2 separate regions of the Homo sapiens genome follow, and region 1 is linked to region 2. Evidence: fine-mapped expression QTL. A gene starts in region 2. The other region holds a variant in brackets. All regions are shown on one strand. Distances are between the middles of the regions.

Evidence for each region. PIP is the estimated chance that this variant, and not a neighbour inherited with it, causes the effect. A credible set is the group of variants that fine-mapping cannot tell apart.
Region 1: its variant is the best candidate, but not a certain one, in a credible set for the expression of AP2B1 in whole blood (TOPMed, PIP 0.65).

The regions. Positions count from the first base shown.
Region 1 is chr17:35,550,962-35,553,877 of GRCh38, forward strand. SLFN14 (schlafen family member 14) reads right to left here. Exons shown (of 6, transcript NM_001129820.2): 5 at 1,769-2,483. It overlaps LOC107985033 (a long non-coding RNA gene), which reads left to right and starts at 2,244. Exons shown (of 2, transcript NR_138032.1): 1 at 2,244-2,530. The variant A/G (reference allele first, on the strand shown) is at 1,345.
Region 2 is chr17:35,585,898-35,588,813 of GRCh38, forward strand. AP2B1 (adaptor related protein complex 2 subunit beta 1) reads left to right here and starts at 1,425. Exons shown (of 22, transcript NM_001030006.2): 1 at 1,425-1,531. RefSeq lists enhancers at 1,232-1,401, 1,371-2,570, 1,832-1,941 and a silencer at 1,482-1,601.

The DNA.
Region 1 (2,916 bases), 35 kb before region 2:
ATATCAAACAGAAAGTATACTTAAAGCAGAATGGGTTCATTTCTACTTCTCTTAAATGTAAGGCCATGGATTGTGAGAAAAAAAAAAGTTTCTGGTTCTGTAAATGTAAGTTATGCACATGTGGGTTATTTATAATGAGATGTTTAAGGTTGAACATTATAAATTACCTGTTTACAGCTCAATTCCATGATTATTTGGAAATGTGTATATAGTTTGGGCTCTTGCACTTATGCAACTAAGGCACTGCAAAAACTTAAACTAAAAACACAAATCACTTTTGTGACACTCTTGAAAAGACTGACTAAATATATTTTTGTGTGTGTGTGCAACCAACTCCCAGCACATCAGGTGGGTAACTCTTCCCACACGAATAGTCTGCCTACCCTCAGGAATATTTTTTGTCTGTGGTACCTCAGCCTATCGTTGTTTGAATGGCTCTTCAGAATCTATATGCTTCCTCTCATTCTTAGCGCCCCCTATGACCATCTACACTGAACAAGATTTATACAATCATGTCGTACCTAAGCCCCGCAACAAAAGGGTACCCATTCTTCCTTTTGTTATCGGAGCAGGAGTGCTAGGTGGAGTAGGTACTGGCACTGGCGGTATCACAACCTCTATTCAGTTCTACTACAAACTATCTCAAGAACTAAATGGTGACATGGAACGGGTCTCTGACTCCCTGGTCACCTTGCAAGATCAACTTAACTCCCTAGCAGCAGTAGTCGTTCAAAATAGAAGAGCTTTAGACTTGCTAGCCGCCGAAAGAGGGGGAACCTGTTTATTTTTAGGGGAAGAATGCTGTTATTATGTTAATCAATCCGGAATCGTCACCAAAAAGTTAAAGAAATTCGAGATCGAATACAACGTAGAGCAGAGGAGCTTCAAAACACTGGCCCCTGGGGCCTCCTCAGCCAATGGATGCCCCGGATTCTCCCCTTCTTAGGACCTCTAGCAGCTATAATATTGTTACTCCTCTTTGGACCCTGTATCTTTAACCTCCTTGTTAATTGGACCCTGTATCTTTAACCTCCTTGTTAAGTTTGTCTCTTCCAGAATCGAAGCTGCAAAGCTACAAATGGTTCTTCAAATGGAGCCCCAGATGCAATCCATGAGTAAAATCTACCACGGACCCCTGGACCGGCCTGCTAGCCCATGCTCCAATGTTAATGACATCAAAGGCACCCCTCCCGAGGAAATCTCAACTGCAGAACCCCTACTACGCCCCAATTCAGCAGGAAGCAGTTAGAGCGGTGGTCGGCCAACTTCCCCAATAGCACTTGGGTTTTCCTGTTGAGGGGGGCACTGAGAGACAGGACTAGCTGGATTTCCTAGGCTGACTAA[A/G]AATCCCTAAGCCTAGCTGGGAAGGTGACCACTTCCACCTTTAAACATGGGGCTTGCAACTTAGCTCACACCCGACCAATCAGATAAGAAAGAGAGCTCACTAAAATGCTAATTAGGCAAAAACAAGAGGTAAAGAAATAGCCAATCATCTATTGCCTGAGAGCACAGCAGGAGGGACAATGATCGGGATATAAACCCAGGCATTCAAGCTGGCAACGGCTACCCTCTTTGGGTCCCCTCCCTTTGTATGGGAGCTCTGTTTTCACTCTATTAAATCTTGCAACTGCAAAAAGAATATATATATATGTGTATATATATACACATATATATACATATATATATACACATATATATACACATATATATACACATATATATATACACATACATATTTTTGTGTGTGTGTAGTTGGTAAAACTCTTACGTCACAAAATCCTTTAGGGAGTCGCTTTCACAAACATAGAGGATCTCTTTTGGTTTGCAGTGAAACAAGTCCTTAATTTTCTCCATGATCTTTATGGCTAGGGCTGTCTTCCTGACTCCTGGAAAGCAGTAGATGAATAATTCACGTGTCTTCTGAAGACTCTCAGAAAGCAACTGGCTCTGCTCCATTATGAGCAAGTTGAAAAATTCACAGCCCATCTGGTCACTCAGAAGAGATCTGGAGGACAGGGAGACCACCACCAGAGCCTGCAGCAAGTCTTCCATTTCCTCCTCATCAGCAAGCCTGTAGGACCTGGGGTAACGCAGGGGGATCTCACCAGGTCTACTCTGTGTGCTGCTCAGGTGTATCAGCCTTGGAATGATGCACACTTTCCCTGTGTAACCACCAACAGTTTGCAGTTTCTGCTTTAACTGATGAGCTGTGTTTCGGGCATATTCAAGTCCTCCAGGCCAATTGGGGTCTATTAAGATTGTATAGAGTACCACGGGGCTGTTAACTGCTATCAGGAGAGCATCACACAGGACATTCTGTTCTTTCCTGAAGCCAACATCACCAGCCCAGCTTCTAGAAAATATCACAATCCCCTGAGAACAAGGATGTATCAGGGTCTTCATTAAACCCTCCAGTTCTTTATGATCTGAGAACAGCTTCTTACAGAGGGATTCTGGTTTAAATTGTACCTCTTCCTGTGTCACTGAAAATTCAAGGAATAGATGTTACCAAAACTTACAAAAGCATGTGGTAAGTATTCCTGCAACGTTGCAGAAAAAAATGATACCTGGTGCATTTGGGAAAATAAGAGCTTTCCTTTAGAATTGTGATTCTTAATCAGGAGCAGTTTTACTCCCCAACTCTCCCCCATCCCCACGGACATTTGGCAATGTCTGGAAAATTTTTTCTTTTTTTGTGAGACGGAGTCTCGCTGTCACCCAGACTGGAGTGCAGTGGTGTGATCTTGGCTCACTGCAGCCTCTGCCTCCCTGGTTCCAGTGATTCTTCTGCCTCAGCCTCTGGAGTAGCTGAGATTACAGTCACATGCCACCACACCTGGCTAATTTTTGTATTTTTAGTAGAGACAGCGTTTCACCATGTTGGCTAGGCTGGTCTCAAACTCCTGACCTCAGTTG
Region 2 (2,916 bases):
ATCCTGCAATAACCACTTTTAACGTTCTGCTGAATATCCAAGCTTTTTTTTTTTTTTTTTCTTTTGAGATGAGTCTGGCTTTGTTACTCAGGCTGGAGTGCAGTGGCGAGATCTGGGCTCATTGCAACCTCTACCTCCTGGGATCAAGCCATTCTCCTGCCTCAGCCGCCTGAGTAGCCGGGATTATAGGCGTGTGCCACCACCCCCAGCTAATTTTTGTTTTTTCAGTAGAGACAGGGTTTCACCACATTGGCCAGGCTGGTCTCAAACTCCCGACATCAGGTGATCCACCCACCTCAGCCTCCTAAAGGGCTGGGATTGCAGGTGTAAGCCACCACGCCTGGCCTATCCTAGCCTTTTTTTTCTATACATATATAGTCATACTGTATACTGTATTGTTTGGTGTCCTTTTTTTGCTTAACACTTTATGAATTTTCTGTCATAAAATATTCTATAACATTATGCAGCTATCTGATTTACCATAACTGTTTGCATTCTCTCACCTTATACCTGGCTTTCTAATTTCCCCTATTCCCCTATTTTAATAACAGAGGAAATAATAATACATGAGTATGTTATACAAAATTTTAATGTACTTCTGATCACTTTTTTAAGAATGAAGTTTTAAAATACTGAAACACTTTTTGACTCACAGAGTTCATAGGCAAAATGTGAGAAAAATCATCACTTTGCTCTCCATCCTTCCTTACACCCTGAAATTAACCTTAGGGACAGCTAGTTCATTTAACATCATCAATCTTGTTCTCCAGTTCCAGGTCCTGGAATCTAGCTCTTAGTGTCCGAAAGAAACTTACTTTTGTGTAAGCACACCTATTATATACTAGGCACTTTACCTAATTTATCTGGTTTAAACTTCACATGCCCGAGAGAGATACTATCATTGTCTTCATTTCACAGATAAGAAGGTTGATGAGACATTAACTGTCTCAGTCACATTCAGGGTAGGGATTCAAACTCACATCCAATGCCTCCTCAACCTCTTTTACGTGCAGCACTATCCTCTAGCCCCACTGCCCGTATATAGGCCTGGGCTATATCACCATTGTCCGCCCTTGAGCCTGGAAGGAAAATGAGCTGAGGGGTTTTGTTTTTTCAGAAAGGAACAGGATATTTCATCATCTCTATGTTTACGTTTTTCAGAGAATTTCTGTGCGAGGAAACAAATCCATTGTCAGCTTTTTAAAATATATCCCTTTGGAGTAGCCACTTAACATCCTCTGAGGCCCAGATGGGCTAGCTTGCCGGGACCAAAGGAAATCTTTGGGTCTGGAAGGCGACAAGAGATCACAGGCTTTCTAGGTCTACCGCGCACCCCGATGACGTCACGCGGCGACGTTCTCTGACGTCAGAGTTTCCTGCCCACCATCTTTGTCCCTGGCAAAGTGGGTTTTGCGCAGTGGCTTAGACCTAGAAAAGAATCGTGACGGGCAGGAAACCATTACACCACCACCTGGGCTGTGCTCTCCGGCTCCCGCCGCCACCCCCGCCCTCGCCTTCGCCTCCGCCTCCGGTGAGTTCAGGGCGGTTGCCTTTAGGGTGTGTCCCTAATTGACGGGGTCGGGGACGGAGAGAAGGGTAACACCAGGCTGGGTCGGAGACCGGCGGAGGCGAGGAAATCCTAAGAGCGTGACCGTTGATGATGCAGGGAACCGTCGGGTGTGACCATTGAGAGGGAAAAGGTTGGAGAAAGGGTCTCTACCATGATGCCTGTGGTGCGGTGAGGGAATCCTCGGGTGTGGCAGCAGGTAGTTGGGGGCAGGAGGGGAAGATGTGTTTCGGAATTGAGGGTTTAGGGGGACCAGAGGCCAGGGGTGTGGCTGATAGAGCCTGGAGGCCGTGGGGGGAACCGTCTTTCTTCCCCGCTCGGCGTCGTTCACTGAGAGGCTGAGACGTGTCCAGCAAGCCAAAGGGAAAAGGGATTCCCTCAAAGGTTTGCTCATTGATGGGCGAACGTCGTCTCTCGGGTAACTTGAGGGTAAGAGACAACCTCTTCCCTGCTCCGTAATGGAGGAGCATATCGCTAGAATCTTGACCACCTGGGGAAAGAAGAGGCATTCCTTACTCTTGGAGGAAGGAAAGAGTAACCTCCAGAATTGACCCGATGTAAGAGAGGGGGAAGCAAATGGGGGCAAATCTTAACCCAGCATCTTTTTTTTTTTTTTCTTTTTCTGGGCTCTGCAGTAATGGTCTGGTTTGGGAAAGGCTGTAGATTAAGCTGAAAGTAAAGAAACTGGAACGTCCTGTTATTTCCTTATCATTTGAATCCAAATCATTTGTTCATGCTGCTTGTTTTCAAGAGTAGTCTTCTATTGGAGGGGTGGGGTGGGGGGGGACAGGCCTTTATTGAACTCACGCGGATGCTTCATTAAACTTTTGACTTTTATTTTATTTTATTTTTGTATTTTTAGTGACAGGGTCTTACTGTGTAGCCCAGTCTGGTCTCGAACTCCTGGGCCCAAGCGATCCTCCCGCTTCGGCCTCCTAAAGTTTTGTGATTACAGGCGTGAGCCAGCGCGCCCAGCCAAACTTGACTTTTGAGAAGAAAAAATGTTTTGAAAACTGCCAAAGACTTATCATAACCATTGTGGTTTAAAAGAAAGTAAATGCATTAAGCTTAGAAAGGCAGAATGACTAAGAAAGAAGGTGGTCTCAATGAGAATCAATTTAAATGATTAGTTACCTTCCTTGTATACTTCAATTGCTTAGCCTCAGGGTACACTTACAAAGTAGTAATAGAAAGCAGCAGATGAAGGAGGTGCAGCTCTATAAGAAAACGTGTTAAGACATTCCAGTGATGACTAAGCGTGCTGGTAAGGTGAGAACTGTTTGCAGTATCTTAGCCGTTGAAACTTTCAAGGAAGCAGAAAGGATGATGTATAATGCAAACATCCTCAC